4 separate regions of the Homo sapiens genome follow, and all the other regions are linked to region 1. Evidence: fine-mapped expression QTL. A gene starts in region 1. Each other region holds a variant in brackets. All regions are shown on one strand. Distances are between the middles of the regions. Region 1 holds the start of ADI1 (acireductone dioxygenase 1). Region 2 overlaps RNASEH1-DT (RNASEH1 divergent transcript). Region 3 overlaps ADI1 (acireductone dioxygenase 1). Region 4 holds the start of TRAPPC12-AS1 (TRAPPC12 antisense RNA 1).

Evidence for each region. PIP is the estimated chance that this variant, and not a neighbour inherited with it, causes the effect. A credible set is the group of variants that fine-mapping cannot tell apart.
Region 2: its variant is the best candidate, but not a certain one, in a credible set for the expression of ADI1 in esophagus mucosa (GTEx, PIP 0.76).
Region 3: its variant is the best candidate, but not a certain one, in a credible set for the expression of ADI1 in whole blood (INTERVAL, PIP 0.87).
Region 4: its variant is the best candidate, but not a certain one, in a credible set for the expression of ADI1 in whole blood (GTEx, PIP 0.52).

Annotation. Positions count from the first base shown.
Region 1 is chr2:3,514,946-3,523,225 of GRCh38, reverse strand. ADI1 (acireductone dioxygenase 1) reads left to right here and starts at 3,695. Exons shown (of 4, transcript NM_018269.4): 1 at 3,695-3,858. The coding sequence starts at 3,739. LOC124907725 (a long non-coding RNA gene) reads right to left here and starts at 3,680. Exons shown (of 2, transcript XR_007086195.1): 1 at 3,270-3,680; 2 at 1-320. RefSeq lists enhancers at 2,987-3,507, 3,508-4,029 and silencers at 3,449-3,578, 3,649-3,968, 4,049-4,108, 4,589-4,788.
Region 2 is chr2:3,561,599-3,569,878 of GRCh38, reverse strand. It overlaps RNASEH1-DT (RNASEH1 divergent transcript), which reads right to left. Exons shown (of 3, transcript NR_038429.1): 3 at 8,129-8,280. It overlaps LOC124907726 (a long non-coding RNA gene), which reads left to right. Exons shown (of 2, transcript XR_007086196.1): 2 at 1-1,397. Among named protein-coding and RNA genes, the nearest start is that of RNASEH1-DT, 7.4 kb to the right of the region's middle. RefSeq lists enhancers at 1-381, 382-988, 989-1,594, 5,190-5,239, 5,290-5,339. The variant G/A (reference allele first, on the strand shown) is at 4,625.
Region 3 is chr2:3,495,567-3,501,974 of GRCh38, reverse strand. It overlaps ADI1 (acireductone dioxygenase 1), which reads left to right. Exons shown (of 4, transcript NM_018269.4): 3 at 982-1,161; 4 at 2,893-4,609. The coding sequence ends at 3,012. Among named protein-coding and RNA genes, the nearest start is that of TRAPPC12-AS1, 16 kb to the right of the region's middle. The variant C/T (reference allele first, on the strand shown) is at 4,179.
Region 4 is chr2:3,482,106-3,490,385 of GRCh38, reverse strand. TRAPPC12-AS1 (TRAPPC12 antisense RNA 1) reads left to right here and starts at 7,133. Exons shown (of 2, transcript NR_046720.1): 1 at 7,133-8,240. It also overlaps the pseudogene LOC112268321. The variant G/A (reference allele first, on the strand shown) is at 4,338.

The DNA of each region.
Region 1 (8,280 bases):
TTTCAAAACATCTAAACAGATTCTTCCCAAGTGTCTTACATCGGGGTGATAAATTCTGGTCATGAAACATATTTTTGGGCTGCTGCTGGCTATTCTTCTGGAAGAGACAGTTCAAGTTCCAAAGATTCCTCTTCAAAGGAGGAATCCCATGGGCCGGCAATGTCCGTATGAAGTAATGAGTGCTGTTCTCATCTGATTCTGCCCGCTTGAACTCCTGCCAGCAGCAAGTGCTGGGCTGCCTTGGCAATTCCTCAGAGCCTCTCCATCATCTTGCTTTTCTAAAGTATGTTTTTTATGGCATAAAACTGTTTCCCCCATACCTAATAGGAAAAAAGGAACAGCTACTGAAGACAGAGGCTGACAAATGGTAGATACATAATGGTGTGGGGCTGCCGCAGCCTGGGGGTGGGAGGGGAACCGGAAGCACTCTTCCAATTTCAAGATGAAGTTTATTCTACGATGGGATGAAACCCACATCATTACTTCTTGTACTCGATTTTAGCAGTTATGTGTACAGGCTGTTGGGCTGGGCTCCCCAAGCTCAAATACCAGCTTTGTCACTTCTGGTTGTGTGACCATAAGTTACTTCACCTGTTTGTGTCCTAGTTGTCTCATTTGTTTTTAAGTGATATGGGGTCTTGCTGTGTTGCCCAGACTGGTCTCAAACTCCTGGGCTCAAGCAGTCCTCCTGCCTCAGCCTCCCATGTCTCATCTTTAAAATGTGGATAATAAGTCATACCAACTTCACAGTGTAATCATGAGGAGTAAAAATAATAATATGCATCAAATCTTTAAAATGTTACCCAGCACACACTACTATTATTATTGTCACAATTACTATTTTCTTTTTAATAAAAATATTTTTTGTAGAGATGGGGTCTTGCTGTATTGCCCAGGCTGATCTGGAACTCCTGGCCTCAAGTGATCCTCCCACCTTGGCCTCCCAAAGTGTTGGGATTACAGGCATGAGCCACAGCACCCAGCCTAGTACTACTATTTTCTAGTAAATGAGAAGCATTAGATATGAGATAGGAGTGCAGTTACAGTAAGACAGTAAAGACTATTTGGAGTGTTCCTCATCCTATCCCTTCATTCAACAAACTTTTAAAAAAATTGTCTACTATGTACCAAGCACTGAAGGACTAATAAGACACATTCTCTGACCTCAAGGTATATGCGGCACTCAGCAATACAGACAAATCCATTCATTCAGCAAGTACCAAACAACACATGGAGTGGTCAGTCCTTTGGTGAAAAGACATCAAGTCAACATGTCCTTACAAACTCTAAGCTAGCACCATGGCAGTGTTTCACACGGAGAGCCCATCTAGTTGTCTAGGGAGTGGTCAGAGAAGGCTTCTCTACGAAAGGGATAGTTAAGCTGAAATTAGAATTTTGTATAGGAGAAAAGTACTTGGAGGAAGGAAGAGCATTTTCAGTGGAAAAACTGCATGGGTGAAGGGCCCAAAGGAAGGAGGAGCATATGACTCAAATACACTGAAAGGCCAAAGTATCTGGAGGACAGAGAACAAGAAAGGAGGGCGATGGGCTGTGAGGTGGTCAGGCCGAGGCTATAGAAAGGAGGGTTGAAGCAGAAAAGGGGCTTGACTGGATTCCATGTTTTTTTGTTTGTTTGTTTTTTGAGACAGAGTCTTGCTCTGTCACCCAGGCTACAGTGCAGTGGTACAATCTCAACTCACTGCAACTTCAGACTCCCAGGCTCAAGCAATCCTCCTGTCTCAGCCTGCAGAGTAGCTGGGACTAGCGGTGCAAACCACCACGGCCAGCTAATTTTTGTACTTTTAGTAGAGACGGGGTTTCACCATGTTGCCTCGGCTGGTCAAGTGATCTACCCTCTTTGGGCTCCCGAAGTGCTGGAATTACAGGCGTGAGCCACAGTGCCTGGCATCTGGCTCCTATTTTTAAAAGGTCACTCTGGGTGCTGTGCATAGAATGGATTGCACTGGGGCAAAAATGGAAGCGGTGTGAGGAGGGGGAATTTCAGTAGTCAATTCCATCAGGCAAGAAAAGACTGCAGAAAGAGTTGGGCTGGAGAGAAGTGAATGGATTTGCGGTGTGTTTCGAAGGTCAAAGCAACATGACTTGCTGATAGATTGGATTGGATCTTGAGGGTGAGGAAAAGCAAAACTGAGAGTACACCTAGATTTTTTTATTAAGCCACTGGGCAGTCAGTGCTGCCGTTCACTGAGACGGGAAAGGTTAGGGAGAAGCATGTTTGGGGGTGTGTGTGGGGAATCAGTTGTTTTGGCCATGTTAGGTTTGACACACTGATTAGCCATGTATGTGACAACACCAACTGGATACTCAAGCCTGAGGTTCTGGAATGAGGTCCAGGTTGGAGATGTGGCTGCAGGAGCCGGCAGCACAGCATGGAAAGTCGCCTGGAGTGAGTGGATAGGAACAGGACGAGGAGAGTCTGGAACGCTCCACTAACCAGTGGTTAGAGGAGCAGGAGCTAGGAGGGGCCTGGGAAGGAGCAGCCAAGATGCCCTCATGAAGGAAAATGAGAAAATGTTTCAAGAAGGGCGTGGGCAACTGTGACGAATGTTGCTGGTAAGAACAGAAGTGCCATGATTGGATCTGGCAATATGGCAGTCATTAGCAGTTCCCCAGTGGTGAGAAGCGAAGCCTTATTGCAGTGGCTTAAGGAGAAAATGCGAGGTGCGAGATTGCCATTAGATTCTTGCATGAAGGTTTGTCATGAGTGCTGCAGAAAAATGGGCAATGGCGTCTAAGGTGTGTTCTTGAAGGATGAGTAGTAACTGGTCAAGTGAAGAGGTGGAGAGGTAGGCTCTCTAAGGAGGATGTATTTGCAAAGCCATTAGAGCAAGGGAACAGAAATGAAATAAGTGTGTATTTTTCTTGCAATATTTCTGGAAGTTCAAGAGTCAATTGCATGCATTGGGGTTGTGCTCTTACAGCAGTCTCATTTAAATCCTGTCTGCTTTATCGTTATTTGTTAAAGAGACTGAGGGAATGGCTGAGATAATCTGATCTTTTTCAACTCGTTGGTTTGAAAAGACATCTAGGATGGTCAAGCGGCTGGACTTTATTAGCTACATTGAAAAATTCAGAATGGGATAGGGGAAGCTTGTTTTTATTCTAAGACTAGCACATTACAGTGTATGGGGAAGGGAGAAACGATGAAAAGAGGAAACAAGAGGAAGTTTAAAAAGTACAGGGTAGCACTGCAGAATGCCGACACTGCAAAAGTCTGGCGAGCGGGGAGGTGGAGGACAATGTCTCACCTGGGATCCGAGCTGTGAAGTCTCAACTGTGCCCATATGGACTGCATGAGCTTAACAAAATCCTTATTCTTTTTTTTTTTTTTTTGCATTTGCTTTCCATACTCTAAACACGTTTAACGTCGTTTGCCTCACAAGATTGCTCTGAAGGTGCAGGGAGACCGCGGCAGCACACACAAGGCACGTGCGATGCCTACGGTGAGCTTCACCTGCCCGGCGCGTCTGGCGAACGGCTGGCCCCGGGCCGCGGGCCTCAGGCAGGTCCGAGGGTGCCCAGGACAGGGTCGGGGCTTGAATGCCTTTGCTTCCGAAAACAGCGGAGCCGTGGGGCCTCCCCCGCGCCGGCCCTGCCTCCAACCAGCCGCCCAATCCCGGCTCCCATGCGCGTCCACGCCTCCCTATAAGATAAAGCGCGGCCGACGGGCTCCGAGCGCGGCCCCTGGGTTCGAACACGGCACCCGCACTGCGCGTCATGGTGCAGGCCTGGTATATGGACGACGCCCCGGGCGACCCGCGGCAACCCCACCGCCCCGACCCCGGCCGCCCAGTGGGCCTGGAGCAGCTGCGGCGGCTCGGGGTGCTCTACTGGAAGGTACGCGAGCCCAAGCCTCGCAGAGCGTGCGGGCGACGCCGACCCCCAAACGCCGCGCACAGCCCAGCCTCCTCCAGGTGCCGGGCAGCGGCCTGGGAGCCGCGGCATGCTGCGCATGCTCAGCAGCGGGATTTGGGGGTTCGTGGCGGCTCCCGGTGCCTGGGGTGGGCTGCGCATGCTCAGCAGTGGGGCTGGGTGGTCAGGGCCTCCTGCGCGGCGCCTGGGTGTGCTGCGCATGCTCAGCAGCGGCGTTGAGGGGTCGGCGGTCAGCCCCCAGCGCCTGTGGTGTGCTGCGCATGCTCAGCAGCGAAGTTTACGGGGTTGGCGGTCGGCTTCCGGCGCCTGGGGTGGGCTGCGCATGCTCAGCAGCGGGGCTGGTGGGGGTCGGCGGTCCGTTTCTGTTGCCTGGGGTGTGCTGCGCATGCTCAGCAGCAGAGTTGGCGAGTCAGGGGCCTCGCAGCCGGGACTCGCTGCGCACGCGCAGCTCCGGGATTGGCAGCGACCTGAAGGGTCGGCCGGCAGGGCTGCAAGATTCGCCGGAGGCGGGCTGCGAGTTCGTGGGCTCGTTGGGCTTGTCCGACGCCCTGCCTGCCTGGCTAACCTCGGTCAAAGGCCCAGGGGTTTCTTCTATCGGAGGAAGGGGGACTCCGCTTGAAAGTGTCCTGGGGGAGGGACCGGGCGCCAGCAGATCGAGGCGGGGTCCTGCCGCGGTCTGTCGGGGATCCCCGGGGGGTAGCGCTCGGTGGTGGGGTGGGGGCGTCTCCAGTGGGCGGTGGAGCTGGCTTGGGTCCCGGCTGGGCCCGGTGTCAGCCCTGCCTCTGTAACGCTAGCTTTGCAAGGCGGGGCTAGGCTTTGCACCGGTGTCCCGTTGCTTGCACAGCACCAGTCCAGATCCGCTCACCTTGTTTATTTGCAAATGGTTTTGCAGTAACAAAGGTTTACTGCAAAAGAGAGGGCCAGGGTAGGCCTCAGGGATAGGCTGAGGGGTGACTGGATCTAATCTTCATTCATGTGATTTAAATGAAATACACAGGGTTACCTGGACACCACACTTTTTCCCTTGGGAAAGGATTATAGAATATTCCAGCATAATCTATTTGGATATCATCTTGTTCTATCCTAAATAACAGAAGAGGGAAGTGACAATTGGCATACCAGTGCGAAACAGGGCATGCATGTTAATGTTTACATAGTATTTGTCTTTTCCTAGGATAAGGTTTAACACTTACCTTGCTGGAGGGTACTTCTTCAAAGCAATCAAGTGGTTTATAGTTTTCCATTAATGAGAGGAGAATAAATTTTGACTTATTATGTTTATCCACAATCCAAACAACCAGAGGGTTCAAATTAATACACTTGGGGAGTTTCATTGTGCATTTGACGGTTTTAAGAACAAGAACAAGAGTGAGATTACAGGTCAGCTTCTTAATGTATTCAAAGAATAAAATAAGATTTATTTTAATAGACATCTTTTAGATTATTACATGGGCTCAAACATAGTTTTTCCTACCGTCTAGTTCTGCTCTGAGTCAGGGCTATCAAAATTAAATCATGTTTACTCTGTGGTTTTAATGTCCTGTGTGTTTTTATATTCTTCCTTTCTTTTTTTTTTTTGCTCTTTTTGCCCAGGCTGGAGTGCAGTGGCATGATCTCGGCTCACCGCAACCTCATCTTCCCGAGTTCAAGCCATTCTCATGTGTCAGCCTCCCGAGTAGCTGGGATTACAAGGTGCACAGCACCATGCCGGGCTAATTTTGTATTTTTAGTAGAGACAGGGTTTCTCCATGTTGGTCAGGCTGATCTTGAACTGCTGACCTCAGGTGATCCACCCACTTCGGCCTCCCAAAGTGCTGGCATTATAGACACGAACCACCGCACCCGGCCTATATGCTTTCTTAATATCCATTCTGGATCAGTGCTGTTGGAAGACAAAATTACAACAAATTTAGTTAAAGATCTAATTAGCTTTTATTCTTGATTTGTGAATAGGGCAACCTCCGTTCTACAAAATAGAATAAGAGCTCGATAGGGTAATAGCACAACAGTGGGTTTTGTAGGGCGGCAACAAAGAAACAGAACAATAGGTAGAAAAGCTGATTGGTTAACGTCAAGTTACATTAGGTTACTTTTTTCCTAAGGGTTAAAGCAGAAGCGACTTCCTTATTATTCTGACTCAGGAAGACTGGAATCTTCTGATCGCAGGAAAAGCTGGTCTGTTTGAGATGCACCTCCTTCTTTAAAGTTTTAGTTTGATCAAGTGGCATATGGCATGAGTGGCTGCATTTTGGTTTGGTCTCATCCTGGGGCCTAGTGCAGGGGCTCAGTCCAAAACAGTGACCTCTCCTGGGCCAGGCATGGTGGCTTCTGTCATCCCAGCACTTTGGGAGGCTGAGGCGGCAGATTGCCTGAAGCCAGAAGTTTGAGACCTCATCTCTAAAAAAACCCAAAAAACAAAAAAGCCACACACACACCCCATATTAACATTATATATATGTAACATCTCCCATAATTTTTAACAGAGGTAACACATGTGGACATGTTTGTGTATCTGTTTAATCAATCTGTTATTAGTGACATAGAGTTCTAAAAAACCTTTTGTCATACATACAAACAATTGGAAGATTATTTTAGCTTGGAATAAACTAAATACCTGCTGCTATAACAAAATGACAAAAATAGCTTAAACTGGGCAATTTATAAACAACAGCAATTTATAGAATTCTTATAGTTCTAGAGGCTAAGAAGTCCAAGATTAAGGTGCCAGCAGATTTAGTGTCTGATGAGGATCCTGTCCTCATAGACGGCCATTTCCTTGCTCTGTCCTCATGTGGTGGAAGGGGCAAACTGCTCTCTTACATCTCTCTTGCTCTTTTTTTTTTTTTTTTTTTTTTTTGAGATGGAGCCTCGCTCTGTCACCCAGGCTGGTAGCGCAGTCTTGGCTCACTGCAACCTCTGCCTCCTGGATTCAAGTGATTCTCCTGCCTCAGCCTCCCGAGTAGCTGGGATCACAGGCGTGGACCACCATGCCTGGCTAATTTTTGTATTTTTAGTAGAGATGGGGTTTCACCATGTTGGACAGGCTGGTCTTGAACCCCTGACCTCAGGTGATCTGCCCACCTTGGCCTCCCAAAGTTCTGGGATTATAGGTGTGAGCCACAGTGCCCAGCTCCATCTCTCTTACAAGGCCACTAATCCTATAAATGAGGGCTTGCCCTCATGACTTAATCACATCCTAAAGGTCCCACCCCTTAATACTATCACATTTGTGTTAAGTTTCAACATTCGTATATTTAAACTTATGACACGTGTCATATAATGTGTCATATTACATATTATGTGTCATAATATGGACACATTCAGACCATAGCAAATAGTACTGTGCATATCATGCAGTGGATAGGCTAAGTTTTAGAGTCAACTTTGTAGAAAATAACGTATTGATGACTAGTACTTTAATATGTTCTGGAGTATCGGGGGAACCCACCCCCAATATTTCAACATAGGTTCCATTTTCCATAAGTGTCGGCCAGCTGAGAAATAAAGAGAGACAGTATAAAGAGAGGAATTTTACAGCTGGGCCGCCAGGGGTGACATCACATATCGGTAGGACCGTGATGCCCGCCTGAGTCTCAGACCAGCAAGTTTTTATTAAGGGTTTCAAAAGGGGAGGGGGTGTAAGAACAGGGAGTAGGTACAAATATCACAGGCTTCAAAGGGCAAAAAGCAGAACTACTAATAAGGGTCTAACAAAGATCACATGCTTCTGAGGGAACAGGACAAAGGGCAAAAGCAGAACCACTGATAAGGGTCCAACAAAGATCACAGGGCAAAGGGCAAAAGCAGAACCACTGATAAAGATCTATGTTCAGTGCTGCACATATTGTCTTGATAAACATCTTAAATAACAGAAAACAGGGTTCGAGAGCAGAGAACTGGTCTGACCACAAATTTACCAGGGTGGAGTTTTTCCCCACCTTAGTAAGCCTGAGGGTACTGCAGAAGACCAGGGCGTATCTCAGTCCTTATCTCAACCGCATAAGACAGACATTCCCAGAGCAGCTGTTTATAGACCTCCCCCCAGAAATGCATTCCTTCCCCAGAGTATTAATATTAATATTCCTTCCTAGGAAAAGAATTTAGTGATACCTTCTCTACTTGCACGCCCATTTATAGGCTCTCTGCAAGAAGAAAAATATGGGTGTTTTTGCCTGACCCTGCAGGCAGTCAAACCTTATGGTTGTCTTCCCTTGTTCCCTAAAAATCGCTGTTATTTTATTTTTTAAGGTGTACTGATTTCATATTGTTCAAACACACATGTTTTACAATCAATTTGTACAGTTAACACAATTATCACAGTGGTCCTGAGGTGACATACATCCTCAGCTTACGAAGATAACAGGATTAAGAGATTAAAGACAGGCA
Region 2 (8,280 bases), 47 kb before region 1:
TGCGATTGCAGGCACGCACCGCCACGCCTGACTGGTTTTTGTATTTTTTTGGTGGAGACGGGGTTTCGCTCTGTTGGCCGGGCTGGTCTCCAGCTCCTAGCCGCGAGTGATCCGCCAGCCTCGGCCTCCCGAGGTGCCGGGATTGCAGACGGAGTCTCGTTCACTCAGTGCTCAATGGTGCCCAGGCTGGAGTGCAGTGGCGTGATCTCGGCTCGCTACAACCACCTCCCAGCCGCCTGCCTTGGCCTCCCAAAGAGCCGAGATTGCAGCCTCTGCCCGGCCACCACCCCGTCTGGGAAGTGAGGAGCGTCTCTGCTTGGCCGCCCATCGTCTGCGATGTGAGGAGCCCCTCTGCCTGGCTGCCCAGTCTGGAAAGTGAGGAGCATCTCTGCCCGGCCACCATCCCATCTAGGAAGTGAGGAGCGCCTCTTCCCCGCCATCCAGCCCATCTAGGAAGTGAGGAGCGTCTCTGCCCAGCCGCCCATCGTCTGAGATGTGGGGAGCACCTCTGCCCCGCCGCCCCATCTGGGATGTGAGGAGCGCCTCTGCCCGGCCGCGACCCCGTCTGGGAGGTGAGGAGCGTCTCTGCCCGGCCGCCCCGTCTGAGAAGTGAGGAGACCCTCTGCCTGGCAACCGCCCCGTCTGAGAAGTGAGGAGCCCCTCCGTCCGGCAGCCACCCAGTCTGGGAAGTGAGGAGCGTCTCCGCCCGGCCAGCCGCCCCGTCAGGGAGGGAGGTGGGGGGTCAGCCCCCCGCCCGGCCAGCCGCCCCTTCTGGGAGGTGAGGGGCGCCTCTGCCCGGCCGCCCCTACTGGGAAGTGAGGAGCCCCTCTGGCCGGCCACCACCCCGTCTGGGAGGTGTACCCAACAGCTCATTGAGAACGGGCCATGATGACAATGGCGGTTTTGTGGAATAGAAAGGGGGGAAATGTGGGGAAAAGATTGAGAAATCGGATGGTTGCCATGTCTGTGTAGAAAGAAGTAGACATGGGAGACTTTTCATTTTGTTCTGTACTAAGAAAAATTCTTCTGCCTTGGGATCCTGTTGATCTGTGACCTTACCCCCAACCCTGTGCTCCCTGAAACATGTGCTGTGTCCACTCAGGGTTAAATGGATTAAGGGCGGTGCAAGATGTGCTTTGTTAAACAGATGCTTGAAGGCAGCAGGCTCGTTAAGGGTCATCACCACTCCCTAATCTCAAGTACCCAGGGACACAAACACTGGGGAAGGCCGCAGGGCCCTCTGCCTAGGAAAACCAGAGACCCTTGTTCACTTGTTTGTCTGCTGACCTTCCCTCCACTATTGTCCTGTGACCCTGCCAAATCCCCCTCTGCGAGAAACACCCAAGAATGATCAATAAAAAAATAAATAAATAAATAAAAACATTTAAAGAAAAAAATATATATATATTCTTTTCTTTATTAAAAATATATATATTTTATATATAATTTCTTCTCTATTATGTAGGATCCTGTGCCTGGAATGTATAATCTCTGTGCTGCAGAAAGCCTAGAGGTCAGATAGGTGAGGAGGCCACAGGCTTCAAAGTCATTCTTCCCCTCCGAATCTTAATGTTAATAACGGAGTGACAGAAGGAAAGTTACTAATGAGTCCTTGCATGTGAGATGAAGTTATGGACCTGTCTGCTCGATCAAGAATTAATGGATTGCATTTAACAGAAGGTCCTTTCTCTCCCCTCCACTTACAGCTGGCAGAGCCTTTATTATTATCATCGTCCGTGGACCAGTGCAAGTGAGATGAATATGCCAGGCTGTAATGAGAGTGAACTCCTGGGTTAGCACACGCTTAACTGAAGCAAGGTCACAGGCCTGCTCTGTAAAGTCAAGGCCACTTTTCCTGTATGGCAGTAAACCGTCTCTAGACATGGGCGACCTGTGGGTATATGGAAAGTAATTGCTCATATATTAATATTTAAAATATAGAAATATTTGCACTCGATTTTTATCATAAATTGATAATTTGCTTACCTTTGATAGATCTCATCAAAAGAAACACTATTCTTACCATTAATTGTCACAAAATATGTACAGGATGAAAAGAACACTGGTTCTTTTCATCCTCTATATGCCCGGATAATTTTTATATTTTTAGTAGACACAGGGTTTCACCATGTTGGCCAGACTGGTCTCGAACTCCTGCCCTCAGATGATCTGTCTGCCTTGGCCTCCCAAAGTGCTGGGATGACAGGTGTGAGCCACTGCACCTGGCCAGTTATCTCCATTTTTCACAGGAGAGAACAGAATTGGAGCAATGCAGCAGATGCACACAACCAGCAAACCTAGAGCTGGAATCCGAAGTCGATGCATGTGAACGTCCCAGCTCAGAGAGAGGCGGTGAGCAGGAGAGGACTGGGTGAAAATGGTTCGCACACACACCTTTGTCTTCATCATTTAGTCCTCCAGGGTGTCACATGGACTACGCCACTTGACCTCCACAGCAATTCTGTGGCATTTGTGCACCAGAAACTTTATCCCTGTTTTGCCAGCGAGGAAACTTAGGTTTGGAACGGGTAGATCACCGCACAAAGCCTTACTGTAAAGAGCGCCAGGCCTCAAACTTTTGCTGGCATTGTCCTTCACAGTTTACTTTAGGGCCTGTCATTTACTGGGGTGAAACACAAAAGTTTCTTGTCCCTGAAAGTCTGCAATTAAAGTGCCATTAGCACAGTAATGTACCAACCAGTCGTTCCTTGGGCCGCAAGGGGGCATGTCTACTGCTACTCAGTCTCAGTGGGTAAGCTGGAGAGTCCTCCCACAATGAGCAGATTCCGAGGCGGGTGTGTACATGGAAGGACTCACAGGGGTTGGGGAGGCAGCAGTGGCGTTCTGTCCGAGCCTGTTTGTGTTGCTATAAAGGAATACTCGAGGCTGGGTAACTTATGAAGAAAAGAGGTTTATTTGGCTCAAGGTTCTGCAGGCTGTACAAGAAACATGGCGCCAGCATCTGCTTCTGGTGAGGCCCTCAGGGAGCTTCCACTCATGGCAGAAGGGGAAGGGGAGCTGGCATCAGATGGCAAGAGAGGAAGGAAGAGAGGAGTGCGGGAGGTGCCAGGCTCGTTTCAACATCAGCTCTGGCAAAAACTAACAGAGCAAGAACTCACTCCTTCCCGAGGGGACAAGAGGATGGCACCAAGAGGCACATGACCCCAAGACTCCCAGTAGGCTCCACCACCAACACCAGGAATCAGATTTCAACATGAGATTTGGAGGGACCAGGTATCCAATCTATCCATCCACTCCAAGCATCCATTTGATACCCAGAATGCATTATTTCAGCACCCGTATCCATTCAACAAAACTATTTTAAATTATAATCATGTAATAGGAATAATCATCATTTTCCTAATTATTCTTCGGTTTCAAAACCAAAAATTGGCAGGTCATGGTGGCTCACACCTGCACTCCCAGCACTTTGGGAGGCCTCAGGTAGATCACCTAAGGTCAGGAGTTAGAGACCAGCCTGGCCAACATGGCGAAACCCCATCTCTACTAAAAATACGAAAATGAGCTGGGCGTGGTGGCGTGTGCTTGTAATCCCAGCTACTGGGGAGGCTGAGGCAGGAGAATCACTTGAACACGGGAGGTGGAGGTTGCAGTGAGCCGAGATCGCGCCACTGCACGCCAGCCTGGGTGACGAGAGTGAAACTCCATCTCAAAAAAAAAAAACCCAACAATTACACTTTTAAAAAACAATAAATTTCTTTCCTTTTTTTTTTTTTTTTTTTCTGAGACAAGATCTCACTCTGTCACCCAGGCTGGAGTACAGTAGTGCAGTCACGGCTCACTGCAGCCTTAGCCTCCCAGGCTTAAGCAATCCTCCACCTCAGCCTCCCAAGAAGTTGGGACCACAGGCACGCTTGGCTAATTTTTAAATTTTTTTGTAGAGACAGGATCTCACTATGTTGCCCAGGCTGGTCTCAAACTCCTGGCCTCGAGTAATCCTCCTCCGTTGACCTCCCAAAGCATGAGCCAACGTACCTGGCCAAAAAAAATAAATTTCAATTGTATTTTATTTATTTATTTATTTAATATTTTTTTGAGACAGAGTCTTATTCTGTCGCCCAGGCTGGAGTGCAGTGGCCCAATCTCGGCTCCCCGGGTTCTAGCGATTCTTCTGCCTCAGCCTCCTGAGTAGCTGGGACTACACGCCCGTGCCACCACGCCCAGCTAATTTTTGTATTGTTAGCAGAGACAGGTTTTCACCATATTGGCCAGGCTGGTCTCGAAATCCCGCCTCGGCCTCCCAAAGTGCTGGGATTACAGGCGTGAGCCACCACTCCTGGCTAAATTTCAATTTTAAAGACATTATTTGAATTCAGTAAAATGTGTAATATATGAGCTAAAATCCACACTATAACAAAAATATTTCAGCTTGCGGTTCCCACCGCCCTGTTTCACTGATTCAAATTTTAAGCACAAGTGATCACATGGAATGAAGTGAAGTAAAGCAAGTTCTCCTCGTTTGTCTTTATAGTCATAGTGCTACCACGGTTCACTTCAAACCTGCTGTTTACATGCAGGAGGTTGCAGTGCCCATCAGCTGGATCAAACTGTGCCTGAAGCTAGCACTCTGCTTCTGAACCAAATAAACTTCTTGTGGCTGAAC[G/A]AAGACGTGTTGGAACCAAGTGCATAGCTGGGAGCCCTTGGGATTAACTCCCATGTAAGACATGTTTGTTAAAAGATTAGGGATAAAAATGGAATTATACACATATAATTACAAGAAAGTTTTTTTTCTGGGAAGAGTATTTATCACTGACAGTGTTTAGAATTCCCGGTGCTCAGTTATAATAACAGAGCACCCTGACTTTCAGTCGGCTTGATCAGTCTTTTTTTTTTTTTTTCGAGACGGAGTTTCACTCTCGTTGCCCAGGCTGGAGTGCAACGGCGCGATCTCGGCTCACCACAACCTCCGCCTCCCGGGTTCAAGCGATTCTCCTGCCTCAGCCTCCCGTGTAGCTGGGATTACAGGCACACGCCACCACACCTGGCTAATTTTGTATTTTTAGTAGAGATGGGGTTTCCCCATGTTGGTCAGGCTGGTCTCGAACTCCCAACCTCAGGTGAGGCTTGATCACTCTTTTAGGTTCTCTGTGGCTAAGGTGACGCCCACACCCGAATGAAGTTCCCCTTCCCCAGCCTCAGGCATCCATGGCAGGAGGTGAAGTTGTGGGGATTGTTGATAATGGATGGAATGTGAACGAGTTGCATCAGGAAATGCAGGCTGAGCACAGTGGCTCCCGCCTGTAATCCCAGCCCTTTGAGAGGTCAATACAGGAGGATTGCTTGAGGCCAGGAGTTTGATTCCAGCCTGAGCAATATAGTGAAACCTTGTCTCTACAAAGAATTTTTTTTCTTTTTTTTCAGAGACAGGGTCTCGCTCTGTTATCTAGACTGGAGTGCAGTAGTGTGATCATAGCTCCCTGTAACCTCAAAACATTTTTTTTTTTGAGACAGAGTTTCACTCTTTTTGCCCAGGCTGGAGTGCAGTGGTGTGATCTCAGCTCACTGCAAGCTACACCTCCCAGGTTCAAGCGATTCTCCTGCCTCACCCTCCCAAGTAGCTGGGATTAAAAGTGCCTGCCACCACGCCCGGCTAATTTTTTGTATTTTTAGTAGAGACGGGGGTTCACCATGTTGGCCAGGATGATCTCAATCTCTTGACCTCATGATCCACCCGCCTTGGCCTCCCAAAGTGCTGGGATTACAGGCATGAGCCGCCACACCCGGCCTCAAAACATGTTTTTTTTTTAATTATACAGGAGGCGCACACCTGTAATACCAGCTATTTTGGAGGTTGAGGTGGAAAGATGACTTGAGCCCAGGAGGTTGAGGCTGCAGTGCGCTATGATTGCGCCAATGCACTCCAGCCTCGGCGACAGAGCAAGACCCCGTCACAACAACAAAAAATGAGAAAATGGACATTTATGGCAAACTACTTCTGCCCCGAGATTTCCTGTGGGTTCTGCGTGATTGGCTCTCAGGGTGTGGGCAGCTAAGGTTCCAAAGTGTACTGTTTAATCCTAGCACAGCACAAATGGCTTGCAGGAGATAAGGCAGAATCTCATCAGCACATCAGGGTAAGCACCCAGCTATCATGGGCTAGACCCATGGAGAAGCCGTGCTCTGGGAACCCCCCTCCTCCTTCACTAGAGGCAATGAAATGAAGCAGTAGCTCCTGCTCTGACCTTACTGCTCCCAGAGTCCTTGTGGGTACTAGTTCCAGTCTCAGACTAACAGCCAGAAGATCTGCCATTGAAGTTTCAGTTCCAAAACTAATGCGATGACTTTGGGTAAGTCATAAAACCTCAAGGGTCAGTTTCTTCATCTGTTAAATAAAATCGACATCTGCCCTGCCAGCCTCACAGGGTTGTTTTAAGAAGGAGATGGAATAACAGAAATGAAGGAGGGAGGCCGGCTGCTACCACAGGGCAGGGACTATCACCCACTGTGGCCTCCAACCTGATGGTGCCTCAGAGTCAGCTGGGGCTGCCCAAACACAAACCGCCGGGCTCCACCCCCAGGGATTCCCATGCTGAGGTCCGGGTTGAGGCCCAGAATTTCCATGTCTAATGAGTGCCCAGGTGGTGCTTTTGCTGCTGATCCAAGGACCACACTTTGAAAACCATGACTTAGGTTTAGGAGGACGGGCTCTGGAGGCAGGTTTGAGTCCTGGCTGTACCACTTCCTGTCTACATGTCTGAGGACAAGTGACTTAATCTTTACATTTCAGCTTTCTCAGCTATAGACAATATAATATTGAGAGTGCAAATTAGTTCAACCATTGCGGAAAGCAGCATAGTGATTCTGCAAAGAACTTAAAACAGAACTACCATGCAACCCAGCAATCCCATGACTGGGTATATACCCAGAGGAATCTAAATCGTTCTACCATAAAGACACATGCAGGTGTATGTTCACCACAACACTATTCATGATAGCAAAGATGTGGAATCAACATAAATGCCCATCCACAGTAGACTTGACAAAGCAAATGTGGTACATTTACATCGTGGAATACCATGAAGCCATAAAAAAGGAACGAGATCATGTCCTTTGCAGCACTATGGATAGAGGTGGAGGCAAGCTAAGGCAGAAACAGAAAACCAAACACCGCGTGTTCTCACTTATAAGTGGGAGCTCCACAGCGAGAACACAGGGATATTAGGAGGGGAACGGTGGGCAACGGGGCCTACCTGAGGGTGGAGGATGGGAGGAGGGAGAAGATCCGAAAAAATACCCATCGGGTACTAGGCTTATTCCTCAGTGATGAAATTATCTGTACACCCATCCCCCATGACATGAGTTTACTCATGAAACAAACCTGCACATGGACCCTCAAACCTAAAATAAAAGTTAACAAAAAATTTTCCTGACCAACCTCTTCAGGAAGAGGGGCAATCCTCGTGTCACAAGCAATGCCAATAAAGAACAGGAACGCCACCTTTTTCAACTCCTGAGAGATGAATCCAACGTCTGACCCTGCATTGCATGCACTCTCGCCCACGTCGGCTCTCATCCCCACACTCCTCGTTCCTGTCACCGGCCTATGCTGTAAACACCCTAGCAGTCACAATCAGTCACTTATCTGTCTTATGGGTCTATTATTTCATTCTCTGTCCTGCAACCGAAGCTCTGCGTTGTCTTACCCATGTTTAGAACAGCTCCGTTCAATGATGAGAGTCACACAAGCCATCTAAACTTTTCTGGTGGTCACATTAGAAAAGTAAAACAGCAAGAAATAGTTTTATTATTATTATTAAGATGGAGTCTCACTCTGTCACCCAGGCTGGAGTGCAGTGGGACAATCTCGGCTCACTGTAACCTACACCTCCCGGGTTCAAACGATTCTCCTGCCTCAGCCTCCCAAGTAGTTGGGATTACAGGCACTCACCACCACACCCGGCTGATTTTTGTATTTTTAGTAGAAATGGGGTTTCACCATGTTGGCCAGGCTCATCTCGAACTCCAGACCTCAGGTGATCCACCCGCCTCAGCCTCCCAAAGTGCTGGGGTTACAGGCATGAGCCACTGTGCCTAGCCACTAATTTTAAATGTATTTCTTTAACCCAATATATTCAAAATATTATCAGTTCAACCTGTAATCAATATACAAAATTAACAATGTGTTTTAATTTTTTTGGCAGTAATGAATGCCATGTTGGCTTTTATTATTTTTTTTTTCTAATTTTAAGTTCCAGGATACAAGTGCAGAACATGTAGGTGCTATATAGATAAACATGTGTCATGGTGGTTTGCTGCACC
Region 3 (6,408 bases), 20 kb after region 1:
TGCAGGCAGAATCAGATTATAAGGGCACAGTCTTGGTGAAGGGGGTATGGATATTTACTGTAAAATACTCTCAATGTTTTTGCATACTTGAATATTTTTATTATAAAATATTAGGAAGAAAACACTTTCAGAAAGACACAAAAGTCAGACCAGGCGTGGTGGCTTCCACCTGGAATCCCAGCACTGTGGGAGGCCGAGGCAGGTGGATGACCTGAGGTCAGGAGTTTGAGACCAGCCTGGCCAACATGTTGAAACCCCATCTCTACTGAGAATACAAAAATTAGCTGGGTATAGTGGTAGGTACCTGTAATCCCAGCTACTTGGGAGGCACGAGAATCGCTTGAATCGGGGAGGCGGAGGTTGCAGTGAGCTGAGATTGTGCCACTGCACTCCAGCCTGGGCAACAGAGCGAGACTCCACCTAAAAAAAAAAATACACAAAAGTCAATGTGAAGACATAGAAAATGCTTGTGGAGTCTGTGCCTGCCTCCCTGCAATGTCCACTGGCTTCTCACTCACCCTGTGTGTTGTGATTTCATGACTGCTGTGTGCAGCACACTGGGTGGGTGTGAGCATGGGGCCAGGGTGTCTTTGGGGCAGTCTCGTTGTGTGAGGTTGGGCCAGTGACTTAGCCTCTCTGTGCCACCATTTCCACATCTGTAAAACGGGGCTGATAGAGCAGCCACCTCGTGGGGCCGTGCGGGTTGGGTGAGTTGGCCTGTGTGAAGTGTTCAGAACCTTTGCTTCAGGTCTGTTCACTTTCAGTTACTGCCCATTTGTTGACAGGTTTCATAAAATATTCTAGCTCTGGCCCTTGTACTGTTAGGAAAATAATTCTTAGCAAGTGTAGTTTCATTTTTATGGAGAGAAGTCCCATTCACCTCAGCTCTGGCCCACCAAAGGCTCAGGCTGCTGAGTGGGTGGGTGTGAGCTTGCGTGACAGGTCTCTGGTAGACTCACAGGAATGTTCCTTCTGCACTAGATTAAGATGTTCTACGAGGAGCATTTGCACTTGGACGATGAGATCCGCTACATCCTGGATGGCAGTGGGTACTTCGATGTGAGGGACAAGGAGGACCAGTGGATCCGGATCTTCATGGAGAAGGGAGACATGGTGACGCTCCCCGCGGGGATCTATCACCGCTTCACGGTGGACGAGAAGGTGGGAGTGCTGTGCTTTCTCCCCAGGCCCGGCCTGTGTGGTGGCCCTGGCCGTGGCATCTCTGCCGCTGAACTGCGCGGCTTCCGCAGACTCCAAGCGCGGTCGCTGGGCTCGGGACTCCTCGACCTGTGCTTCAAGGAGAGTCTGTGGAGCCGCAGGCGATGTCCGAGGTGACAGCTGTCCTTCCGTGGCAGCCTCCGTGGCCCCTGCCTGCGATCCTGGTGGACAGGTGTGCATTTCATACCCAGGCGGGGCAGGTACAGGCGGCGGCAGGTACATGCGGCGGCAGGTACACACCCACGAGCCTGGCCCTGCCCCAGCCCTTGCTTGGCGGTGAGGCATCTCTAGGGTTGTCACCCCAGCCCGTGTTTGGTGGTGAGGCGCCTGTAGGGTTGTTATGTTGCCATACTGTCACTTTTAAAAACATTTCAGTTTTGGAATTGAACAGTAACGCAGTCCAGTCAGGATTGGCAATAAACACAGATAAGGTAGTTTTGGGGTTCACTGGAGGCGATTGGGGTAATGCTGATTTAAGGGTAATTTTTGAATAAATACTAAATGCACATGGTTTAAAATTTAGAAATATGAAAGGGGACCTGGTGAAAGGTCTCCCTCTGACCCCTGTTCCCAGCCTCCCAGTTTCTCTCCCTGAAAGTAACCAGTATTCCACTAAAAAAATTATTTTTAGAGTGACTTTACACATATCCAAGTGCATGTCAGTCAGGATTCTTTTTTTTTTTTTTTTCTTTGAGATGGAGTCTCACTTTGTCGCCCAGGCTGGCATGTAGTGGCTTGATCTCGGCTCAATGCAACCTCCACCTCCCAAGCTCAAGCGATTCTCCTGCCTCAGCCTCCTGAGTAGCTGGGATTACTGGGGCACACCACCACGCCCGGCTAATTTTTGTGTTTTTAGTAGAGACGGGGTTTCACCATGTTGGCCAGGCTGGTCTCAAACTCCTGACCTCAGGTGATCCACCCACCTTGGCCTCCCATGGTTCTACATTTTACTTTTTTCTACATGATGTTCACTGGGGACTGTTTCATTTCAGTGTCTACAAGCCTCAGCCCTGATTACAGCTGCACAGTACTCTGGCGCTGGACATGCTGTACTGTATTTAACCATTAATTTATTTCAGTGAGTCATTGACCCCCAACAATGAGTATATACATTGTTCTCAATTTTTTGCTCTTGTGAACAGGGCTGTAATAAATACCCTTACATGCTTGTCATTTTGCACTTCTGTGTGTTTTTCTGTAGGGTAAATTCCTAAAAGTAAAAACTGAATTAAAAGGCACGTGCGTTTTTAGTCTGGACGGATGTGGCTGAATTGTCCTCTCCTGCCCACCAGCAACATGTGGGCCCTGATGCTAATTCTTAGGAAAACTGTAGCCAAATGAGGCGGAGAGGAGGTGGAGGGTACATGGGGTTGGAGCCAGTGCTTTTCCTGACTGTGTGTCTCTATAGAGAGCACGGAGGTGCGGAGTTCAACACCAAGCCTCAGCTCCAGATGCTCTTACCTGGCACGTGAGGACAGGCAGGGCCAGCTGCACCACCTGATACAAATTTTCCTTCCACGAATAAAATGTGGCCTAAATTGTTAAAGACGCAGAATAAAAATAGCAAGTAAAGTGTTTATAGCAATTAATGTTAACAAGTTGATATGTTAATAAATACTAAGTAGAAGGCCGGCTGGTTTAATGAGATGCTGGGTGTGTTTGTCTGTTTTCCAGAACTACACGAAGGCCATGCGGCTGTTTGTGGGAGAACCGGTGTGGACAGCGTACAACCGGCCCGCTGACCATTTTGAAGCCCGCGGGCAGTACGTGAAATTTCTGGCACAGACCGCCTAGCAGTGCTGCCTGGGAACTAACACGTGCCTCGTAAAGGTCCCCAATGTAATGACTGAGCAGAAAATCAATCACTTTCTCTTTGCTTTTAGAGGATAGCCTTGAGGCTAGATTATCTTTCCTTTGTAAGATTATTTGATCAGAATATTTTGTAATGAAAGGATCTAGAAAGCAACTTGGAAGTGTAAAGAGTCACCTTCATTTTCTGTAACTCAATCAAGACTGGTGGGTCCATGGCCCTGTGTTAGTTCATGCATTCAGTTGAGTCCCAAATGAAAGTTTCATCTCCCGAAATGCAGTTCCTTAGATGCCCATCTGGACGTGATGCCGCGCCTGCCGTGTAAGAAGGTGCAATCCTAGATAACACAGCTAGCCAGATAGAAGACACTTTTTTCTCCAAAATGATGCCTTGGGGTGGGGAGTGGTAGGGGGAAGAGCTCCCACCCTAAGGGGCACACACTGAGTTGCTTATGCCACTTCCTTGTTCAAAATAAAGTAACTGCCTTAATCTTATACTCATGGCTTGGAGTTACCTTATATTCAGGTATATGTGATATTTTGCCTGGTTTGTTAAAATTGCCCCATTTAGATTCCTTCTATAATTGTTCTTATAGATAAGTAATTTATATATGAGCTGTGTTAGTATTTTTTCAGTGTGAGATCTCTGGATTCTTTCACAATAAAGCTGTTGAATTTTAACAGGAGTATTAGTACATAAATTTTCTACTCAACAATTCCGAGATAGGATTATGCCTAGTTTGTCATATCACAGAAAAACTCCAAGTTAACTTCATGTTTTGGAAGGGCAGGTCGTTTTTAAAGTATTTCTTTTTTTAACTGGATGAAAAATCTTCATGTTAGGATTAATTTTCTTAATCACCTCCACACTGTACAGAGGAAACTCAAGCCTTAAATGTTTAAGTAAACTCTGTCTCAGTTTTAGGATTAAAATACCCACCGGTGGTGTGATGATGCCATATACCGCAGGGCTTGCTTCTGTCAAGTGTGACTCTATCTCAGTAATTAAAATAAGTGCTGATCTACTGATTTTTTTTAATGGATTCATTTCTAAATGGGCATTATAAATAGAGCTTGTTCATTTTTAAGAACGAAACATTCATATGATAAACTATCGCTTTAAATTGCCTTTCTTGCTTCATATAACTTTT[C/T]CCTGTCAGGATCCTTAGTGTTTGAAACTCCTCGTGCGGGGCTGGCCTCCTGCGGACTCTAGTTTCGCCTCCTTGATGTGGCGCCTGGGATTTCTTCACTTCAGAGCTGTATTTTTACAGGCAAGAGTAAGTTCCTGGGCACAGTGGCTCATGCCTGTAATCTCAGCTACTCAGGAGGCTAAGGTGGGAGGATTCTTAGAGCCTGGGAGGTCGAGGCTGCAGTGAGCTGTGATTGTGGCCACTGCACTCCAGCCTGGGTGACAGAGCGAGACTCTGTCTCAAAAAAGAAGAAAGAGTAAGAGCTGAGGCATATAATAGAATTCTGCTAAAGCACTTAAGGTGAAATCACATTTTCTTTTCCCAGGATGTTGCTCACATCTTTCGTTTTTATTGAGGTGTCATTTATATACAATAAAATGTACTCATTTTCAGTGTTTTTGAATTTTGACAAATGCAGCATGACCTCAGGCAGAACAACATAGGACATTTTCATCACCCAAAGAAGGTTCTCATGCCCCTTCTTAGTCCCCCCACCCCATCCTAAGCAACCTATGTGGGTGGGTTTTGGCTTTTCTAGAATTTGATGCACGTGGAATCCTGCAGCATGTTCACGTTTGTATCCGGCGTCTTGCGTTCCTGCTTCTGTTCCCTGATCCCTACACTTACACTGTCTCCTGGGTCAGGGCAGCCCCTTGTTAGTATCTTAAACAATGGAACGGTTTGAGGAGAGCTCGAGGGTTGAAAAACACTAAGCGAGCGGAAATGTAATGTAGTAAGAAACAGAACTCTAGGCGGGGAGAAAACCTAGGGAGGTAAAAGGCTGTTCTTCCCGAAGGCATCACTGTAAAGTAGTGGGGGGGTCTCTCTTCAAGCCGAATGTTAGAGAAGACGGATCCTTGGCTGGGCGCGGTGGCTCACGCCTATAATCCCAGCACTTTGGGAGGCCGAGGTGGGCGGATCACCTGAGGTCAGAGGTTCAAGACCAGCCTGGCCATGATGGCGGGTGCCTGTAATCCCAGCTACTCAGGAGGCTGAGGTGGGAGAATTGCTTGAACCCAGGAGGCGGAGGTTGCAGTGAGCTGAGATCTTGCCATTGCAGTCCAGCCTGGGCAGCAGAGCGAGACTCTGTCTCAAAAAACAAAAAAAAGAAGATGGGTCCTTTATAAACACATTCGTTAGATTCTAAATCAGGTATTTTTTCCAAGGAGCCCAACTGTTAGTTTCCCAAGCGGGACAGCTGTTGGTTTTCACTGTGTCCAAGTTCGTCAATTTAGAGCAGGCTCTGCCTGCTTGCTGAGTAAGATATTCCTGGACATGTGTTATTTTTCAAGTGTGCCCTCTTTTTACAGGCACAGATGTATTTATTGCCATGGGGTTTATGACTGGGATATTAATAAATCAGAATATGAATTATCGCACTTGAGTATGGCTTCAAGCTGGTTAATGTGTTGGCATTTTCAAGACACTTTGATTTTTCCTGCCGTCTTCCTACTCGAGGTAGATACCGCACTGCAGACAGCACAGGCAACCTGGTGAGAGGCCTGCTCGCATTGTGGGGACTTCACGCTTGTTTCTAAGGAGTAGGCGTGGATAATCCAGGAAATGTCCAGCCTTGTTCTATCTTGTTCCAGATTCAACATCTTATCCCAATGAAGTCCTGGCCCCAGGACGCTCTCCCGGTTTGGAATAGCTGTTACAGGCTTCTTCATTCCTGCGGCGGCTCATTTCCCTATTTGGTTTTGTCCTCACTTCCGAAAAGTGAATAGGATCATCTCCTTTCTGATTTTTATTTCTCTTCTTGCCATCCATCTCTTCATCTTGTTAACTAAAAGATGACACAATCTATACATTTAGAAGAGGAGACATTCTTTCTTTTTCTTTTCTTTTTTTTTGAGATGGAGTTTCATTCTCGTCGCCCAGGCTGGAGTGGAGGGGTGTGATCTTGGCTCACTGCAACCTCTGCCTCCTGGGTTCAAGCGATTCTCCTGCCTCAGCCTCCCGAGTAGCTGGGATTACAGGCGTGCACCACCACACCCGGCTAATTTTTTTTGTATTTTCAGTGGAGATGGGGTTTCACCATGTTGCCAGGCTGGTCTCGAACTCCTGACCTTGGGTGATCCATCCGCCTGGGCCTCCCAAAGTGTTGGGATTACAGGTGTGAGCCACCATGCCCACCTAAAGACATTATTTCTTGTAAAGAGTTACACTCTGCAAGGTGGCATCCCGCAGG
Region 4 (8,280 bases), 33 kb after region 1:
CTGCAGAGGCCGGGAGCCCTGGGGGGAGGTCCTGGGAGGAGCCCTGGGGGGAGGTCCTGGGAGGAGCCCTGAGGGAGGCTCTGGCCCTGCATCTGCCTGGAGCTTTGCCCAGGATTGCCGTTCTCGTCTTCCCAGGATTCCGACTCTGTGCTTCGAAATGTCGTTACACGATCTCTTCTGTTGTCTTAGTTGGGGCTCTTTTTGTTACAAGTGACAGAAGCCCAATGTGAAGGAGCCTGTGCCTGGGGGTGCCTGCCCTGGGGGATCAGGGACCAAGCCACGTCTGCTCACGGTGGGACACAGTGTAGACACAGTGTTGACGTCTTAAAGCCTTACTTCTCATTCCATTACGCAGAGGAGTGACTTCAGCTGCCAGCCCTGGTCCCCAAGGCTCCAGGAGAGGTTCTGTGGGACTAGACCCAGGTCAGCGGCTCTGACAGGGACAGGATCGCGCAGCGCAGACATGGCCGTCGGCTGAAGGGCCTCCTGTGGTGCGCAGGCCACTGCCGGCTCATGTCCAGGTCATCTCTCCCGCGCTGCAAATCCTGCTTGCCCAAAGTAAAAATGGAGCGTGTAAAGTTAGCACGGTGGACATTTGTGCACTTATGGGACAGAGGAGGCTTGAACTTCATTCCGAGGGGAAAGAAGCCAGCCCTGGCTTTCTTACTCTGTTAGATAACCCTGTCTCTCTAGGTTTCAAAAATATCTTCATCCCATCGCAAGTGACCAGGAGGGACTTCTGGGCCTCACCCAACTCACTACCGCAGTGAGTCGCTAGTACTGGTAAGATGACCTGTGGGTTGGGTCAAGGGCTCCCGGAGTCCTCTGCCTGCTATGATGCGTGAAGTTCTTCCATTCACCATGTCTCTCAGTGAAACTCGGTCCCACAAGCCCCTCCGGGAGAGCTGGTTTTGTCCCCTGAGTGCCGAGATGCATAAGAAAGTGGCTGGTGGGTTCCTCAGGACGCCACAGTCCAGTGAGGAGAGCAGAGGGTGCAGCAGCCCTTACGGCCGGGTGAGGGGTACGGGGGCTCCAGGCAGGCACAGCTGCTGAGAGAGAGGGGTCGGGGCAGTCGTCACCATCAAGTGGATGGCTGAGGCAGGACGTCCCTGCGGGCTGATTGTCCCTGGTCCTGACCAGATTTGCTGTGACCACCTGGCTGGGCCCTGAAGAGGGCAGAGGAATTGCTCAGGTGGGGCCAGGGCACAGGGCTGAGGCCTGCAGTCGGGCCGTGCCAGGTTGCAGATAACATCCGGGGCACCCCTGAGCAGGCGGCTCTTCTGAATCGCTCTGTGTTTTGCTCTCTGTTTTCTGCCTTGGGAAGTGATTATTTTTCAAAACATTCTCTTAAACGTGGCGGGGGCAGGGCACTAGAAGCATCCAGGCATGAAGACAGCCCCCAGGTCAGCAGGGCTGGGGAAGCTGGGCTGGGCGGGGGCTGGAGGACAGGAGGCTGTGCTCCTATCACGGTCTGTCCCTGGCGTGAGCAGTGCAGGTGTGACAGTTCTGGGGTGGAGCTTACTTTTCAACTGAAACCACTTTCCCATGGACGTGCTTGCCTGCCTGCCTTTATTATTATAGTTTAATGTGTTTCATTGTCCATGTTAAAAATGCTTGTGTTTATTTTGCACCAACTGTTCAAAAAAACCCACCCATTCTAAAATCCAAATAGGATTTCATCTGAGTTATAAACCCACCCATTCTAAAATCCAAATAGGATTTCATCTGAGTTATAAACCCACCCATTCTAAAATCCAAATAGGATTTCATCTGAGTTATAAATACAACAGCCTGGCAAAGGGCAAGTCAATGGAATCAATACGATCTGCCCTAGCGTCCGCGTATTTTCCAGCCTGCTCCATTGCTAATCACTCCTGAAGCCTCCTTGGTGCCCCGGCTTTATTGATTGCCTCTGCAGAAGAATGTGTGTGTGTGGGGTCCCCAAGGACACAAGGACGCCACTGGCAGGGCCAGAGACAGAGGCATGCTCTCCAGAGGCCTGTCCTGCTGCTGCTGCTGCTGAGCAGGACTTTGGGCCAGCGGCCACCCATGATGACATTGAAGCTGGCCCCAGAGATCCCAGGATAGAGGCCCCAGGGCAGCACTGCCTGCTCCACCTCCACAGAGAAACATCCCTGTGAGCTTGGGGTGTGGAGAAGACGAGGGAGGAGCCCTCCGTGGATGCCTTGGGCTTGGAGGTGTCTGCATGGATGAAGGCTCAGATGGAATCACCCCAGTTCTGCTGCTGCAGTAGCTGTGTGGCCGTGGGCAGGTTCTTCAAGCTGTGCCTCAGTCTCCCTGTCTGTAAAGGGGGACATCATGTACCCTTGGAGCAGGGTTGAGGTGAGGAGTCCACCAGAGCCTGTCTGTGAGGTGGAGGGGCTCGAATAACGTCCACTAAAAGTTCATGTCTGCTCGGAACCTCGGAATGTGACCTTTTTGGAAATGGTCTTTGCAGATGTAATTAAATAGGGGTTTGAGATGGAATCATCCTGGACTAGGGTGGGCCCTAGCTCCAAAGACTGTTGTCTCTGCAGGAACAGAAGACAGAGACACTGGAGGAGGCCACATAAACACAAAGGCAGAGACTGGGGCCATGTGGCCGAAAGCCAGGAGCACCGAGGACTGCCATGGCCACCACGGAGAGAGGCCTGGGACAGACGCCACTGCAGAGCCTCCAGAGAATGCAGCCAGCCTGCAGCTCGCGTGCAGCCTTCCAGCCCCCTGAACTGTGAGAAGATGCAGTTCTATTTTAAGCTGCTCTGTTTGGGCACCTTGTTACAGCAGCCCCAGGAAGCTACTCAGTGGGCGTTTGTGGTTGGCCGCTGAGCATTCCCAAGGTCACGGCCCCATCCTAAGCCCTGGGACCTGTGCACGTGACCTGTTTTGGAAAAAGGGCTTTTGCAGATGTAATTAGCTTAAGGATCTTGAGATGAGAAGATTATTCTGGATTACCGTGGGCCCCAAATACCATCTTAAGTGGCTCCGCAAAAGATTTGGCACACGGAGGAGGCTGTGTGACCAGAGGAGAGACCGGAGTGATGTGGCCACAAGCCAAGGGCACCGGGAGCCCCCAGAGGCCGGAAGAGGAGAGGAAGGAGCCTCTCTAGGAATGGCCTGCTGACGGCAGCCTCCAGAATGGGGAGGGAATCAAGTCTGTGCTCTCATACTTAGGAGTGTCTTACGGCAGCCTCAGGAAACAGACGCAGTTTCCCATTCACAGCCTGGCCTCTGTCCCCATCTGGGGGTTTCCCCACAGCCTGGCCTCTCCCTGTTGCCCAGGCTCTCCCCATAGCCAGGTCTCTCCCCATATCCTGGCGTGTCCCTGCAGTCTGGCTTCTCCCCACAGCCTGGTGTCTTCCCATAGCTTGGAGCCTTCTCACAGCCTGGAGTCTCCCCTGCATCCTGGGGTCTCCCTGCAGTCTGGCTTCTCCCCATATCCTGGGGTCTCCCTGCAGCCTGGGGCCTTCTCATATGCTGGGGTCTTCCCGCATCCTGGGGTCTCCCATATCCTGGGGTCTCCCTGCAGCCTGGGGCCTTCTCACAGCCTGGGGTCTCCCCACATCCTGGGGTCTCCCCGCATCCTGGGGTCTCCCCATATCCTGGGGTTTCCCCGCATCCTGGGGTCTCCCCATATCCTGGGGTTTCCCCGCATCCTGGGGTCTCCCTGCAGTCTACCCATGGTGCCAGGGCAGCTCTTCCTCCTGACATGTGTGGGGGGCCCTGGGGTGCAGAGAATAAACTCCACCCATCGGATGTGAATTCCAGCAGCCCTGAGGGTGGGTGAGTTTCCTGGAGCAGTGGGCGAGGGTTCAGGGATGCAGTTCGCTGACTGTCCAGCTCAGCACGCCCAGGGAGCTGGCAGGGTTCCCTGACCCCGGGAAGCAGGTGGAGGCTGAGACAAAGGCCAAGCCAGCTGGAGGCTTTAGGGAGACGCACTGGGTCCACTCCACAGGCAGCAGGACCCCAGGCTCACTGTGGGCATTTGAGGAGTGGGTGTCAGGGTGACCAGAAGGAGCCAGGGTGGAGGTCGCAGGGTGTCATCTCGGTGGGCAGAGCCTCGGGGCCCTGGGGTGGAGGGAGTGAGGCTGGAGAGCCTGGCTGGCTGTGCTGGACGCCTAACACGGTCCCGGAGATGGCACTTCTCCCACGGACGAGGGTGGGCGACGCGGGAACAGACTGCCCGTAATCGGGTTCCAGGTCCAATAAAGGTAAACCTCGAGGTGGAAAGGACCTAGACGCAGGTGAACACGGTCCTCCGTGTGTGAGTGCATGTGTGTGTTGTATGTGTAAGCGTGTGGCCATGTGTGTGGTGCTGGAGCCCAAAGCCTATCCAC[G/A]GCAGCCCATTGGTGGGTCCGGCCCTGCCTGTGGATTCAGCTCTCCACTGCAAAGCAATATGCAGTGTGTGAAACGGCAACACAGATCGTGGCACCACCATGAGCCTCACTGTTAGATTTGGATTGGAATCCCTCCCTCTCTCCCGCTTTAAACTGTGGGTCCTTGGAAAAGTTACCTGACGTTTCTGATTTTCACATTCTTACCTGTAAACCCTCCCAGAGTTGAAATGAGCCGTGTGGGAATGGGGGTGGGGATGGGGAGGCGCGCAGTCACCCTCGCCTTCCTTTTCTTCTCTCGGTAATTGTGTTCTTCTATGTCAAAGGAAAAGAATAAAACTGGAAAATTATTTGGGGGAAAAAGAAAAAGACACACATGCAAGTGCCACAGGAACCTGCTGGGGGAGAGATGCTCTGTGGCCTTTGGTAAGTCAGCCTTCAGCCTAGCAGTTGTAGGACCCTCCGTGGTTCTGGATCCGCATCAACTAGAATTCTATGTTCCAGGGAAAACTGCTTTCAATGCTGACTTACACTTAACACTGTAAGGCCATGGAGCAGAGTAAACATCCCGTCCCATCATGCCCCACGCCCTCCGGAACACCCCGTCCCATCATGCCCCACACCCACTGAAACTTCCCGTCCCATCATGCCCCACGTCCTCTGAAACATCCCATCCCATGCCCCACGCCCTCCGGAGAGTGAGGGCTGCAGGGCCAGTATCTGCCTAGCCCGTGGCAACCTCAGCCCTCAGAGAGCAGCCCTGGTTGCCAGGAACCCAGAGGGCAGAACCCACACTGACCACTAACCATTGGCAAAGCAGCGGCTCCTCTGCAGGGGCTTTTACGTGTTGGTTTCTTTGGCACCATCCAACAGAAACAGAATGGGAGCCACAAATGGGCGCCACATACGTAACTTAAAGTTTTCTAGTAGCCACGTTAAAAATGTTCAAAGGTCATCTTAATTTTAATAATATGTTTTATTTAATCTACTAGATCCAAAATTACTATCATTTTAACAGGTACTCAAAATTATTAATGAGATCTTTTACATTCTTTTAGAAGTGTTTCATAACGTCTCTGCAGCAGCCACATTCCCCATGCTCAGCAGCGGCTCACAGCCTGGATGGCAGTGCGGTGTAGACACTTGAGCTGTGGGCAGGACTCTTCCCAGTCCTCATGGCTGAGCACACAGTGCCGGGCCAGGTGGTGCACGCTGGGGGACCATGGGCCGGGCTGGTCCTGGCTCTGCACTGTCCCTGTGACCCTCGGGATGTTCCTCAGCGTCTTTTGGCGATGGTTCCTTTCCTGTAGGATGCGAGGCTGACAGCATCTGCTGCTAGGAGTTGTGAGGACACGTGAGTTCATTTCAGTTGGGTGCAGCGCCGGCCTAGTAATCTCACTGACCCTTGGTCGCTCAGCCAGTGACTGTGCCCACCTGCCACCATCAGAAGATGGCGGACTTGGGGGTCAGGAGAGCCCTTCCAGGACTGCAGAAGCTGGTCCTTGGGGGTCTCGCAGCAGATCCTGGGGGCGTTCCCAGTATGGGTGCAATGTACATGGGGGGCTCAGGACGGGAGGCCCATGCCAGCCCCTGGGCCTCCAGAGCTGGCAGAAGGCACAGCCCTGCATGGCCAAGGGCGCTGGGCTGCGTGGAGAATGTGCGGGTTCTGTTGTTCTGCCAGCTTAAGCAGTTTACCAAACCAAACAAAAAAAAGGATATGCAACAGGGACAGCATGTGGCCCACGAGGCCTCAAATATTGCCTCTGGCCCTTCACAGAACACGTGTTCTAGAAAGGAAATCCTATGCTCGCGGGCTAGGGGCTTGCTGGGTGGGGAGAGGGGTTCAAAACGTGGTTTGTCACTTCCTATGAGGGTGATCCGACAGGACTTCGTGGAGACGGTGGCGTTTAAGTGGCCTAAGAAGAACTGGAAGGATTCAGAGGAGCGGAGGGACGTGGCCTGGTGGGCAGAAGCCATGGCTGGGTGTCGCAGGCTCTGTGCAGCTCTGACAGCTGCAATGCAGGCAGGCACCCCCCCACCCCATGCTTTACGGCCATCGGGTCTGCAAGTTATAAACTTGGTTACCCCCAGAACGTTGTTTAAACAGTACTGTGTTCTAGAACATGCTGAGATAGCATTTATGCAACTGATGCCAAGGTGTGGAACAGGTTAGTCTGGCTTTTTCCTCAACAATCCAGGAGGAGGACAGGGAGAAGGCAGCATTGCTCCTGAGCGGGTGAGGCCAATTTCATCCTGAGTGATAGTGACAGTAATAACTGATAAGAAATGAAATCACAGCTTTTCACACGCAGAGCCTGACAAATGGCTGACCCTTCCTCCATCTCTGGGTGCTCATGCTGGAGAGCGACGGGCCCTCCCTCCACTGCCGGGGGGGGACGTGCTGGAGAGCGACAGGCCCTACTTCCGATCCTTGGTGCTTTTGCTGGAGAGCAAGGGGCCCTCCCTCCACTCCTTGGTGCACGTGCTGGATAGTGACGGGTCCGCAGTCCACTCCTGGTGCTCCTTCTGGAGTGACAGGCTCTCTCTCCACTCCGTGGTGCACGTGCTGGAGAGTGACGGGCCGGCAGTCCACTCCTCGTGCTCCTGCTGGAGAGCGACAGGCCCTCCCTCCAATCCTTGGTGCTTCTGCTGGAGAGCGACAGGCTCTCCCTCCACTCCTCGGTGTGCGTGCTGGAGAGTGACAGGCCCTCCCTCCACTCCTCATGCTCCTGCTGGAGCGCCGCAGGCCCTCCCTCCACTCGTGCTCCTGCAGGAGAGCGACAGACCCTCCCTCCGGTCTTCGGTGCGCGTGCTGGAGAGCGGCAGGAGCTCGGCCTTCTTAGGGTGTTTGGGACCCCATCCAGCGTGGTTTTGCTTTAGTTCCCCGCCCAGGGAGAGGAGCTCGGCAAGCAGCACCGGGTTTATTCTTGCTCATTTATTCAAAAGAAAGGTACTGAGTTTGAAAATGCACCAAGCACTGGAGAGAAGAGAAAGGTGAAAGGACCTCGGGGCCTGCCTGTAAGAGGCTCAGGATGTGATGTGGCTGGGGATGAGGCCCGGTGGCACCTTCAACGCAGGAGAGGAGGGGGTCTGGATCCCACCGTCAGAGCACGCACGCAACCTGTCCACTCCCTCAGGACTGCAGAAAAGGTCCATTCTTGTATTTCTTTTTAAGTTGAATTAAATCCATCTCTAGCCCCTGCCTCTGAACTGATGGAGTCTGGCTGTCATTGGGCCTCCCTCACCCGCAAGGGGTGGAACCAGAGCTTGGGGCTGAGGCGCTCCTGGAGTGTTTAGCGCCTCTGCTGTCAGGACATCCTGTGGCCACTGGCACGCTGTCTGCCCACACAGTGCCCCCGACCAGCAGCGGAGCCACCCACTCTCCACAGCCAGGGTTGGGAGCCCTGGGGCCCGAGTCCCCGGTCCCACGTGCCACACAAGGCAGGACATTCTGGGTGCTGTCGCATCCCCGGAATCAGGGCCTGGACCCTGGTCAGAGCAGGACCTGCAGGTGACCCCGGGTGGGGCAGACTGTCTTCTGTCCTTGGTGGCAAAGCCGGTGTTCTCGGCGTCATGTCTGCACACGTGTGCCTGAAGCCACGGGAACGCAGGGGCTACCTCTGGGCCTGGGCCTGGACCTGTGGAGCAGGATCGGGGAGGACACACAGGTGGGCGTCTCAAGAACTGTGGTGTACACAGCTGAGCCCCTGCAGCTCTGCTTTGCCGGGCCTCACCCTCGGTGCTGGGTGCAAGACGTGACAAGATGGCATGGGAAGCTTCCCGGGGAACGCTGGAACTGGGTGTTTGAAGGAGGACCTCATGGCGGCAGCTCCAGCCCAAGTACTGCAACTGTGGGGCCGTGCCAGGAGCAGGTGCTGCGGAGCCTGTGTGGGTCCAGGACAAGAGGTAAGGGGAGTGTGGACGGGGCTGCACTGTCCTGGGGTTG